Regions from separate parts of the Homo sapiens genome. Here region 1 is linked to region 2. A link means that fine-mapping ties the variant in region 2 to the expression of a gene that starts in the linked region. Tissue or cell type: whole blood. Region 2 holds a variant in brackets; the other region holds the start of a gene. All regions are shown on one strand. Distances are from middle to middle.

What was found. PIP is the estimated chance that this variant, and not a neighbour inherited with it, causes the effect.
Region 1: SYTL2 starts here. The variant in region 2 is fine-mapped to the expression of SYTL2 in whole blood (INTERVAL, PIP above 0.99).

The regions. Positions count from the first base shown.
Region 1 is chr11:85,808,614-85,813,613 of GRCh38, forward strand. SYTL2 (synaptotagmin like 2) reads right to left here and starts at 2,528. Exons shown (of 20, transcript NM_206927.4): 1 at 2,341-2,528. RefSeq lists a silencer at 2,487-2,666.
Region 2 is chr11:85,584,987-85,593,502 of GRCh38, forward strand. All of the region lies in intron 3 of DLG2 (discs large MAGUK scaffold protein 2), which reads right to left. Among named protein-coding and RNA genes, the nearest start is that of DLG2, 38 kb to the right of the region's middle. The variant G/A (reference allele first, on the strand shown) is at 4,428.

The DNA of each region.
Region 1 (5,000 bases), 220 kb after region 2:
GCCCCTAAGAATATATAACAATCTGCCAGGACACCAGTTTTATTCAGATATTTTGAAGAAAAAACTTTATATTTTTAAATCAAAGTCCATATATTATGAAATCAAATGAAAAAAATTGCATAAGCACAGGAGCATGTGTTGGTCTTCTTTTCCATTGCAGGATCTTCTATGGAAAAGTTTGGTAAGCCCTAAGACAAACATTATAATCTTATCCCCCCAACTTTTGAGAGAGTGACAACCTCATTAATACCAAGTAAGTTTTCCTCTTAATTTAAAAAAAAAAAAAGCCACATTTTTCTTCATCTACTGTATGTTTAAAAATTCTTTGTAAAACAGGTGACAAGCAAACATATTTCCAGGGAGCTCTGGAAGCCTATACAGGCACAGTTCACCCTACCTCCCTTGCCCAAAGAGGAGAAACACCTAGACTAGCATCTGGGTTTTGAAGATGGTGGAACCTGGGCTTCCCCTAGGCTGCCTCACATTTCTACAAGGCAGCAGACCACTCTGCACAAGGTGCTAATTCATTCATTCCACAAATGTTTATTGAGCAAAACCTGAAAAAGGCCTCTTAGGGGACAGTGGAATCATTCACCAGCCAACGGTTAGGGCTAACGGGTCAGATGTGGACAATCAATCTTTCATTAGACCCCAAACCACCTCTAGGATAAAGCAAACAGGGCCCTGCCCCACCCACGCACTAGCAGCTGGGCAGGATTAGGGTAGGCCTTCTAGAACAGTACTGCTGCTGAGAGGCTAAGGCAGTCACAGATTACCTCCAGAATAACGGAAACTCCTGCACCATAAATGACATAATAGCTCTAAGATGTTTTGCATAGTGCCTGACACCTGGTGAGAACACAATGTTAGACATTTTTGCTCTCCTTATTCCAGCTTGCTCTTACTTAAGGAGCACAAAGACAGTGTAAAGAACACAGGTTTTAGAATCAGAGATTGGATTTGAATTCCAGCTATGCTACTTCCTAGCTAAGTGACTAAAGGAAGCAATCTTTCTGAGCCTGTTTCTCACCTATAAAATAGGGTATAGTACATCACCCCTCATGTGGCTTTGTGAGAATTAAGGATATATTACATACAAAGAAGTGTCTGGCCCATAGTAAGTGCCCACTAAACAGCAGTCAACATTGCCCTGCTGCCGTCCCCACACCTCTTCTCCTTCCTAGCTGCTCTTGATGGGTTCTGCAATCTGATTTCACCTGGATACCACACTAAGGGTGAGAAGGGGCAGAACTTCAGGGGTGGAGGAAAGTGAGGGAAGGGAAATGCTGGAGACCTTCCATAGAAATCCAGCCAAGTCCTCAGCTCCTTTCAATCATCCTACTCTATCTGGCTGCTCCATCCAGCAGACAGCAGGGGTCACCATCCTGGTGGGGAATGGCTGCCAACAAGGGGACGGGAAGCTGGATGGCAGTTTGCATCCACCCCACCTTCCAGGGTCTATCTGTCTGAAGCCCCACCGGGCTTCCTCTGCACATCCCTGCCGGGCTGTGTGGCTCAGGGGGCTGACAGGGTGATTCATAGCCTGTTCTTATCTAGGCTTCTATCTCAACCCTGCGCCCAAAGCCCTGGAGGCTGCTGGTCACAAACCAGCACTAAATGAAAAGAAGAACTTTTCATTAAGGCAGGAAGTGGAGCCCCTCAAGGTCAAAGGGGATTTATAAAGAGAGGAGGAAAGAAAGGGAAGACGCGGCAGGATGGGTGCAGAGAAAGAGAGACCCACTTCCTATATGCTGGTGGAGCCCTGTGTCTTAGACGCTAAAAACAGTCGCTTTTCCACTTCAAAGGATGATAAAGCCCACTCGTGTAGTTTATAGCTCGCCGTGGGACGAGGTGTGGGTATGGAAGAGAATTCCAAAACACGTCTTATTTTCAAAGGAGAAATCATCATCCCCTGGCCGGCCCTTCCCAACACCCCACCTGTAAACAGGTGCTGACGCTCCTACCTTTCTGCACCTGAGCAATCTGGGGGCAGTTACTCTGCAGCCAGGTCTCCCCAGCACCCAGCCCCAAGCCCAGGTCAGTCCCTGAAAGCCCTAGAAAACGCGATAGCTCAGCAGAACCCTCGCCTACCCGGGCATCCCAGCTTCCTGGCCGCCTGGGCAGCGGAGGTGGCTCTGGAGTAGGTGGGAAACTGAGGAAAGGAGCTTTCCCCGTGCCAAAACGCAGTTCCCATTTTAGAACTGGTTAGACTAAGGAACAACATTCTACACCACCTCCCTCACTTAACAGAGGAGGAAGCAGAGACCAAGAGAGGGAAACAAAGTTGCCCGAGGTAACACAGCGAGTGGGCCAAGTAGAGACTGGAACCCGAGTGCGCACCTCCGAGTCGCTGCCGGGCAGGGAGCGCGCCTCGCCGTCTCTCTTGTCTTCTGGCCCCCAGCCCTCGGCCTGGCGGTGCAAACCGCGCAGCCCCGGGCGCGGCGCGTTACCTTCCCCCGGGCAAGGCGTTGCGAGCCTTCACTCTCCCGACGGACGCTGGCGGCACGGCCCGGGTGTCGCCCGGCACTGTCAACGCAGAGCGGCGTGCGCGAGTCCCTCCCCGCTACCCCCGCCCCCGGCGGGCGGTGCGGTGGGGCCGGTCCCGGGTGCTCGGGCCAATGGCGCTTCGCCCGCTCCCCGCCCCGGCCCGCCCCGGCCTCCTCGCCCGGCACACAGCGCCTGCCAGCCCCTGCCCTCTCCCCTTCCCTCCCTTCGCCCTCCGCCCCCGCCTGCTGCTTCTCTCCGGTTCCTAGCCTCCTTCTCAAGTGTACCTTGCCCCGAAACAACCTGTTTTCTGTGCAAATAAAGCAGCACTGTTGTTATTGTTATTATTATTTTTATCACGGCGCGTTAGGGGGCCTTGGAGCCCGAGAGTGTGGAGCACTAGGAGCCTCTGCACTCCGAGAAGGGACAGCCACCGCGCAGGGAAAGGGGCGCGGAGGGTATGGAGCCCGGTCATGGGGTAACTTGCTTTAACCCTCGGGACGTCAATTTCCTCACATGTGAAATAGAAGAAGGGGGGAAAAAAGTTGTTGAGAGGACTAAATGAAGTGATGCTTTAAAATACAATAATACCTAGAGAAAGGTGAGGGCGTCATGCACTGCCTGAGCTACTTACTGGGGTATGCACAGAGGACTGGTAAGCTCCTGGAAGACGCTGTGTGGCAGGGAGGCAGACAATGCAATACAGTAAATACAATATTGTGGTCGGGCGCGGTGGCTCACACCTGTAATCCCAGCATTATGGGAGGCCGAGGCAGGTGGATAACCCGAGGTCAGGAGTTCGGGACCAGCCCGGCCAACATAGCAAAACTCTGTTCTAATTAGAAAAGAAAAAAGAAAAATTAGCTGGGTGTGGTGGCGAGCGCCCGTAGTCCCAACTACTTAGGAAGCTGAGGCAGGAGAATCGCTTTAACCCGAGAGGTGGAGGCTGCCGTGAGCCAAGATCGCACCACTGCACCCCATCCTGGGTGACAGAGCAAGACTCTGTCTCAAAAAAATAAATAAAATAATTTAAAAATTGTATCACGACCTATTTTTTACAAGTTACCCATGATGGGGCCAGCCCAGGCAAACCTCTGAAGGAGATGAACCTTAAAGCCTTTTTCCTTATCATTTCCTGGACTAGTGTTGTCCATTTAACTGAGGGTGGCCCAGGTCTGCCTTTGGTTCTTCCAAAGGTCTTCCTTCTCCCAAACTTACAAATACTTATCCCCAAGGGCTTCAGTTAGTGCCCAGTGCAGGCTGCTAGCCTGGCCCAAGAGTCCTGGCACTGTGCAGAGATGTGTATTCTGGCTTCCTTCAGCCTTTGAGAGCCTGGTGTGTCCCTGTGCTGGGTGAGCATGCCACATGCAAAAGAGGAATAAGCCACTGGTCTTGCCTTTGAAGAAACAAATTTGTAAATAATTTCATTTTAGGGTAAGTGTTATAATAGGTTGACAAAGTGTTGTAGAGTCACTACGCTGAAGGAGGGGGACAATAAAAAATACAAATGTGACCAAGGTAGGTCTTGAAGGAGGGCTACAAATTAGGTCAGATTGAAGGGGTGACAGAAGACTGGGCACAGAGAGGCAGGCAGAGACATGGAGATGCCTGTCATATGTCACGGCTATTGCACAGGATTTGGGACAATGAGGCAGAGATGAAGCTAAGGAGGTAGGTGGGCAGATGTTGGAGGAGTGGCTGTACCTGCCTTGCTGAGGGAAGCAGGCTGTGTCCTGTTGGTGATGGCTGTTGGCGAATGATTTTAGGCAGGGGAGTAGCGTGACCTCAGATGCTTTTGGTACTTCACTTTTATTGTTGATTGCACCTGCCTTGGTTATCCCCTTCCTGCCCCTCTCTAGCTCTGGAGGGCAGGCACTGGGTCTTGCTCACCTCTGGGTGCCTTGTATCATCTGGCATAGGACTTTGAAGGAACTAAATACATGCTGTTCCCAGTATCACTCGTCCCCTGGAAACAAATAGCAATGCCTAAATGCTAGAGAGGGTCACAGGATCCTTGCTTCAGGTTGTGGGGCAGGCAAGTGGGGGAGAAATTTTAAGGCAGGGTCTTGTTATGGCTCCCAATTCATCTAAATCTTGTATGGCTCAGAGACTAAATCTTAGAGCTCTTGGCCAAGATCCAAATGCTGTTAGAAATGTCAATTTCTAATAAGACCTTAGACCAATTACTCAACCTCCCTGTGCTTCAGTTTGCTCATTTGTTAGAGAGAAAATAATTGCACTGCTCTCTCAGGCCTACTGTGAAGATTAAAAGAAGATGCACATGTTTAGCATGATGCCTTGCACATACAGTGCACTGAAAAAGCCTTGGTTAACACGATCATATCAAGTCAGCAATGGCCTGTTCCACTTATCCCATAGGAACCCTTCAAAATGGTTTACATATAAGTGACACTTAAACTTTAGAGAATTCTAGGTTGACATTGAAGGGGAAGGCAAGAGGGTAGGGATAGCATGGTGTAAGGTTAAATGCACAGACTTTGGTGTATCTCCTGGCT
Region 2 (8,516 bases):
CAGAAGCTTTTTAGTTTAATTAAGTTCCATCTATTTATCTTTGTTTTTGTTGCATTTGCTTTTGGGTTCTTGGTCATGAGGTCTTTGCCTAAGCCAATGTCTAGAAGTGTTTTTCCAATGTTATCTCCTAGAATTTTTATGGTTTCAGGTCTTAGATTGAAGTCTTTGATCCATCTTGAGTGGATTTTTATATACGATGAGAGATGAGGATCCAGTTTCATTCTTCTACATGTGGCTTGCCGATTATCCCAGAACCATTTGTTGAATAGGGTGTCCTTTCCCCACCTTATGTTGTTGTTCGCTTTGTCAAAGATCAGTTGACTTTAAGTATTTGGCTTTATTTCTGGGTTCTCTGTTCTGCTCCTTTGGTCTATATGAGCCCTACCTAACTTTTTAATTCCAATTTGGATGCCCTTTCTTTTTTCACTTGTCTGATTGCTCTAAGTAGGACTTCCAAAACTATGTTGACTAGAAGTGGTGGAAATGGGCATCCTTGTCTTGTTTCAATTCTCAAGGGGAGTGCTTTCAACTTTTCCCCATTCAGTATAATGTTTGCTGTTGATTTGTCATACACAGTTTTTATTACCTTAAGGTATGTCCCTTCTGTGCTAATTTTGCTGAGAGTTTTAATCATAAATGAGTGCTGGATTTTGTCAGATGCTTTTTCTCCATCTATTGAGATGATCATGTGATTTTTGTTTTTAATTCTGTTTATGTGATATATCACAGTTTTTTTTTTTTTTCTAAGATGGAGTCTCACTCTGTCACCCAGGCTGGAGTGCAGTGGCATGATCTTGGCTCACTGCAACCTCTGCCTCCCAGGTTCAAGCTATTCTCCTGCCTCAGCCTCTGGAGTAGCTGGGACTACAGATGTGCACCACAATGCCCGGCTAATTTTTTTGTATATGTTTTTTGTAGTGACAGGGTTTTGCCATGTTGGCCAGGCTGATCTTGAACTCCTGACCTCATGATCCACCCTCTCAGCCTCTCAAAGTGCTGGGATTACAGGCGTGAGCCTCCACACCCAACCTGTATCACATTTATTGACTTGCAGATGTTAAACCATCCCTGCATCCTGGTATGAAAACCACTTGATTATGGTGTATGATCCATTTGATATGCTCTTAGATATTGTTAGCTAGTATTTTGTGGAGGATTTTTGCATCTATGTTCATCAGGGATATTGGTCTGTAGTTTTCTTTTTTTGTTATGTCCTTTCTGGGTTTTGGTAAATCCCAGAATGATTTAGGGAGGATTCCGTCTTTCTCTATCTTTTGGAATACTGTCAATAGGACTGGTACCAATTCTTTGAATGTCTGATAGAATTCAGCTGTGAGGCCATCTGGTCCTGGACTTTTTTTTGTTGGTAACTTTTTAATTACTCTTTCAATTTCGCTGCTTGTTATTGGTCTGTTCAGAGTTTCTATTTATTCCTGATTTAATCTAGAAGGGTTGTATATTTCTTGGAATTTATCCATCTCCTCTACATTTTCTAGTTTGTCCACATAATGGTGTTCAGAACAGTCTTGAATGATCTTTTGTATTTCCGTGGTATCAGTTGTAATAGCTCCCATTTCGTTTCTAATTGAGCTCATTTGGATCTTCTCTCTTCCTTTCTTGGTTAGTCTCACAGTCTATCAATTTTGTTTATCTTTCAAATAACCAGGTTTTGTTTCATTTCTCTTTTGTATTTTTTTGTTTTGATTTCATTTGGTTCTGCTCTGATCTTTGTTACTTATTTTTTCTGTTAGGTTTGGGTTGGTTTTTCTTTGTTTCTCTAGTTCCTTCAGGTGTGACTTTAGATTGCCTATTTATGCTCTTTCAGACTTTTTGATGTAAGCATTTAATGCTATGAACTTTCCTCATAGCACTGCTTTTGCTGTGTCCCAGAGGTTTTGACAAGCTGTGTCACTACTATTGTTCAGTTCAAAGAATTTTTTAATTTCCATCTTGATTTCATTGTTGACCTAAAGATCATTCAGGGGCAGATTATTGAATTTCCAAGTATTTGTATAGTTTTGAGGGTTCCTTTTGGAGTTAATTTCCAATTTTATTTCACTGTGGTCTGAGAGGGTACTTGATATTATTTTGATTTTCTTAAATTAATATTGAGACTTGTTTTGTGGCCTATCCTATGGTCTATCTTGGAGAATGTTCCATGTGCTGATGAGTAGAATGTATATTCTGCGGTTTTGGGGTAGAATGTTCTGTAAATATTTGTTAAGTCCATTTGTTCTGGGTATAGTTTAAATCCATTGTTTCCTTGTTGACTTTCTGTCTTGATGACCTCTCTAGTGCTGTCAGTGAAGCATTGAAGTCCCCCACTATTATTGTGTTGCCATCTATCTCATTTCTTAGGTCTAGTAATAATTATTTTATAAATTTGGGAGCTCCAGTGTTGGGTGCATATATATTTAGGATTATGATATTTTCTTGTTGGATGGATCTTTTTATCATTACATAATGTCTCCCTTTGTCTTTTTCAACTGTTGTTGTTTTAAAGTCTGTTTTGTCTGATATAAGAATAGCTACTCCTGCTCACTTTTGGTTTCCATTTTCATGGGGTATCTTTTTCCACCCCATTACCTTAAGTGAGTTCTTATGCGTTAAGTGAATCTCTTGAAGAGAGCAGATACTTGGTGGGTGGATTTTTATCCATGCTGCCATTCTGTATTTTTTAAGTGAGCATTTAGGTCATTTACATTCAACATAAGTACTGAGATGTGAGGTACTGTTTTATTCATCGTGCTAGCTGTTGCCTGAACATCTTGGGTTTTTTCTTTTTGTTAGTGTTTAATAGGCCCTGTGAGATTTACACTTTAACGAGGTTCTATTTTGGTGTATTTCGAGGTTTTGTTTCAGGATTTAGATCTCGTTTTAGCATTTCTTGTGGTGCTGACTTGGTAGTGATGAATTCACTCAACATTTGTTTGTCTGAAAGATGACCTTATCTCTCCTTCATTTATGAAGCTCAGTTTTGCTGGATACAAAATTCTTGGCTGAAATATACTGTGTTTGAGGAGGCTAAGGATAGACCCCAATTCACTTCTGGCTTATAGGGTTTCTGCTGAGAAATCTGCTGTTAATCTGATAGGTTTTCCTTTATAGGTTACCTGATGCTTTCGCCTCACAGCTCTTGAGATTCTTTCCTTTGTTCTTGACTTTATATAACCTGATGACAACTATGTGACTGGGTAATGATCTTTTTGTGATGAATTTACCAGGTGTTTTTTGAGCTTCTTGTATTTGGATGTTTAGTTCTCTGGTGAGGCCAGGCAAGGTTTCCTCAATTATGTTTCCCAAACTTTTAGATTTATCTTCTTCCTCAGGAACACCAATTATTCTTGGGTTTGGTTAACATAATCACAAATTTCTTGGAGGCTTTGTTCATTTTTTTTTCTTTGTCTTTTTTGGATTAGGTTACTTCGAAAGCCTTGTCTTCAAGCTCTGACATTCTTTTTCCTACTCATTCAACATCATTGTTGAAACTTTCTGGTGCATTTTGTATTTCTCTAAGCGTGTCTTTCACTTCCAGAAGTTGTGATTGTTTTTTCTTTACAATATCTATTTCTCTGTAGCATTTTTCATCCATATCCTGTATTGTTTTTTAAATTTGTTTAAATTGGTTTTCCCCTTTCTCTGGTATCTCCTTGAGTAACTTAATTATCAACCTTCTAAATTCTTTATCTGGCAATTCAGAGATTTTTTTTTATTGGTTTGAATCAATTGCTATGAAGCTAGTGTGGTCTCTTAGGGGTGTTGTAAAACCTCATCTTGTCATATTTTCTGATTCCTTCTCATTTGGGTAGACTATTTCAGTGGAAAAATCTGGAACTCAAGGGCTGCTATTTAGATTCTTTTGTCCCATGGGGTGGTCCCTTGATGTGGTACACTGCCCCTTCCCCTAGGGATGAGGCTTGCTGCAAGCCAGACTGCAGTGACTGGTATTGCTCTTCTGAGTCTAGCCACCGAGTACGGCTACCAGGCTCCGAGCTGGTGCTGGGGAATGTCTACAAACAGTCCTGTGATGCGATCCACCTTCAGGTCTCCCAGCCATGGATACCAGCGCCTGCCCTGTTGGAGGTGGCAGGGGCGTGAAATAGACTCTGTGAGAGTCCTTGGTTGTAGATATGTTTAGTGTGCTGGCTTTCTCAAATGCTGGTTATGCTAGCAGTGACACTGTCACGTGGACAGATTTAGGACCACTGGTTAGCCAGGATGTTGCAGGGCACACGGAATTAGCTGTTGTTTTCCTCTTCCTTGGAGCAGCGTTATTCTGTCATTGAGTTGCTGCAACGTCCTGAGTTGGTCAGACTACAGGCAGAAGGTGGTGCTTTCAAGAGAGCACCAGCTGTGATAGAAGAGGGGGGATATAAGCTTGCCCTAAGTTGACCAAGATAAGTGTTCAGGTTTCTCAAGTAATGGGC[G/A]GGGTCATAAAGCTCCCAAAAGTTTATGTCTTTCATGATCCACTACTGGGTATAGAGAAATACTGTCAAGTCAGGGCAGGGTTAGGCAGATCTGAGCTCAGACTCCCCTTGGGTGGGGCTTGCTGCAGCCACTGTGGGGGTGTGGGAGGGGTGGTTCTCGGGTTAAATTCCAAAGGGGATTATGGCTGCCTCTGTTGCCAGGAAAGTGAGGGAAAGCCAGTAGCGATAGGCCCCACCCAGCTTTTACCCAGTTGGTGAGGCCTGTCTCACTCCCACTGTGCCATCTAAAACCACTGAGTTTGTCTCCAGGCAGCCTGCACATGGGACTCAGACCTAGCCCCAAGTTATAAGTTTCCCAGCTGAGAAAGCAAGCAGGGCTTTCAGGTTACACCCCTCCCCATCTGCCCACATTGTCCCCCATGACTCCTCCTCTCCTTTCTGCCGCAGTTCCTGCTTGCCCCCACATTCTGCTCAAGAGAGTTTGTGCCCAGTCAAAATTATTGTAAAAATCACAATTACTTTTGCGTAGTATCTAAACATTTTTTAATATAGTATAATAATATGAATTTGATCAGCTCAAGAAACTTCTAATGATTTTAACTGTTTAATCCAAATAACCATTTACTTCAAAGGACTCATCACAATTATACTTATTTAATATCTTACTTGTTTAATGTAGTAGACAATGAGCTCCATGAAAACAAGGTGTACATCTCTCTCATCACTAAAACCCCAGAGCCTAATGTGGTGTCTCTTTGATAGTGGGAGATCAAATGTATTTTTTCAAATGAAAGAAATTTAATGAAGAACTGTTCATTCCATGCCAGATTTGGCTGAATTAGAACTGGTCCCTGCATTCAAGAAGCTCACAGTCTGCTGAGGGAGAGCAACATGTAATCAATAAACAATAGTACAATATAATAAGTGCTGTGCCAGAAATATAAACAAATACCATAGAAACATAAGGGAAGAAGTGATTAATTCTGCTTAAAGGTAGAAAATATTAAGAAGTTTTTGACCAAGTAATAAATACTCATTTCCTTGGGATGGATGTTTATACTAAGAAATAATGTCTATATCACATTCTATTAACTTGATTAGTTCCACAGTTCAGTAAAACATATTCTATATTGAAAAATTTTTTTAGATATTACTACGCTATTTCAGGACATCTTGAAAGGGCTTATTCCTAAAATAATCTTTTAGAATTTTTTTTATATTCTCTCTCTCTCTCTCTCTATATATATATATATAAATTCCCTGAAAGTAGTTCAACAACAAAAAGTAAAATTCAAGGCTATAATATTAATAATACTAGTTTGCTTGCTATAGGAAAACCTAGATGAGAAAGCCTATTGCTTTTTTGCCAGCTACCACATATTAGTTACAGTGATCATCACCAAATTTTCACTTATTATGTACTTAACAGAAATCACCAGATCCTTTCACACTCCCAACAATAGCTTTGGGGTTTCACTATCTCACTATATAGGGAAATCTCATATGCACTCAAAATAAAAGATTTTTTTCCTATATTAGCTACAGCACAAATAATAGCATCCTTCATTTAGAAACAACCAGCCTCATACTCATCTAAAGCACATAAATTTAGTTAAATGGTGCCATCTGGTGACATAAATCTTGCAGTAAATATAAAAGTCCTGAGTCAGAGTCCAGAATGATACCCAACCCTCTTGATGGCATCCAATCCAAAGTGTCTAATTTAACTTAAGAAATACTTGATCCTGCCTGACATGAAACACACAACTAATCACACTCAGTATATGGCCGTTTAACAAAGGGAATTATAACAATTGTTTGAGCCACATTTTATGCTCACCACTCTTGTTTCTCAACTCTTTGGAAGAGACTTGTATCTAACAGGATGCCCTATACAACTCCTAGAAGACATTTTAAAAGCATAAATATCAAGGACATTTTGAATCCCTGTTCCAGGCAGATCCATTTCCTCACTCTCCTTTGAACGTACATCAATGTGTATAATTTTCAACACTTCAAAATGTCACTTCCTTAAGAAAGCTGTCGACCAGGTGTGGTGGCTCACGCCTGTAATCCCAGCGCTTTGGGAGGCCAAGGCAGGCAAATCACAAGCTCAGGAGTTCAAGACCAGCCTGGTCAACATGGTGAAACCCCGTCTCTACTAAAAAAAAATACAAAAATTAGCTGGGCGTGGTGGCACATGCCTGTAGTCCCAGTTACTCAGGAGGCTGAGGCAGAAGAATCCCTTGAATGGGAGGTGGAGGTTGCAGTGAGCCAAAGATCAAGCCACTGCACTCCAGCCTGGGTGACAGAGCTAGACTTCATCTCAAAAAAAGAAGGAGAAAGCTGTCCCTGTTTCTACTGTTAAGGTTAAGCCTCTCATTCATAGCCAACTCTACTTCTTCTTTGTATATAAACTCTTGACGAAATTTTGTTTAATGCTTGTCTCCCCAGTGTGTATCATAGCGTTTGGCAAAGTGTTCAATAAATATCCTGTGAACGAATTAATGTGTAAATGGATGGTGAAAACATCCTTCTCTACTCTCTCTTCTAATGCAAATCCTATTAATAACAAGGCTCAGCTCAAGTTTACATTTTATATAAAACCTTCTCTAGCAACAACAATGTACAATAAGCCCATGCTTCTCCTATGCCATTTTAGTCTAGCCCCAAAAATTTAGTCCTCCACTATATGATGTTTTGTATTGTTTTTCATGTACATAAATATTACTTTCTTAATTGACCTTAAGCTCCTTAAGTGTAGGCATTTGGTCTTAATAGCATCCATCTGCATAAGTCTATGTAAATAAGTAAACACTTCATAAATACTTTGATAACTATTATTATTCAATTGCAATAACTAAAACACTTGTACTCTTTTTATTTAAATAAGTATTGTAAACAAATAAGTAGAAACATAATAGACCTTAGCAACTAAGAATTTCACCTTCACTGTTTTGAACAGTCAAGACTTATTTAAAGATCCATGATATGTAATTTGTTTGTTTCAACTGAAGCACATGCTTTGAGATTGTGAGTGGCAGCAAGCATTACCTAGGAAATGCCTCTCTCACATGGGCCAGCAACAACATATCAATGTAGCTTTATCCATAGAGATACTTATTGTAACAGAATTCTATCCATAGAATAATTATTGTAACATAAGTAGAAACTATCTTGTAACATAAATAGAAACTATCATTAATTATCCAAAGAGAAAAAAATCCCTTAAATGTTTTAGATATTCTATTGTAAGGCTGGGTGTGGTGCCTCATGCCTGTAACCCCAGCACTTTGGAATGCCAAGGTGGGAGAATCACTTGAGCCCAGGAGTTCAACACCAGCCTGGGCAAAATGGTGAAGTCTCCTTTCCGCAAAAAAAATTCAAAAATTAGCCAGGCATGACTGCGCATACCAGTAGTCCCAGGTACCAGGGAGGCTGAGGTGGGAGGATTGCTTGACCCCAGAAAGCAGAGGTTGCAGTGAGCTGAGACTGCACCACTGCACTCTAGCTTGGGCAACAGACAAGACTGAGAAAAAAGAAAGAAAAGAAAAAAAAAGAAAAGAAAAGAAAAAAGAAGGAAGGAAGGACGGAAGGAAAGAAAGGAGGGAGGGAGGGAAGGAAGGAAAATAAAAAGAAAATTAAAAATAAAAAGATATGCTACTATATTTTAAAAAGAAAATTGGACACCATAATGATAATTGTGAGTTTATGGATTACAAAGTACTCAAGATATGTCCCAGAATGATAATGGCTCATTATAGTCGTTACAGATTAAATCAGATCCTATAAAACACAAGAAGGAAAAAATGCCACTGTCATATTCTCCCAAGTTTAGTAATAATATTCACACACTGTTAATATATTACTTTCCCTGAATGGCCAAATACCTAACCATTTAGAACATAGGTTTTCAAATTTTAACATGCCTCAGAATCACCTGAAAGGATTAGTAAAGTACCATTTGCTGAGCCCTACTTCCAGAGTTTCTTATTCAGTCAGTAGGTCTAGGGTGAGAACCAAGAATTTGCAATTCTAACCAAGTTCACAGGTGACTAGTGCTGAGGTCCAAGAACCACATCTTGAGAA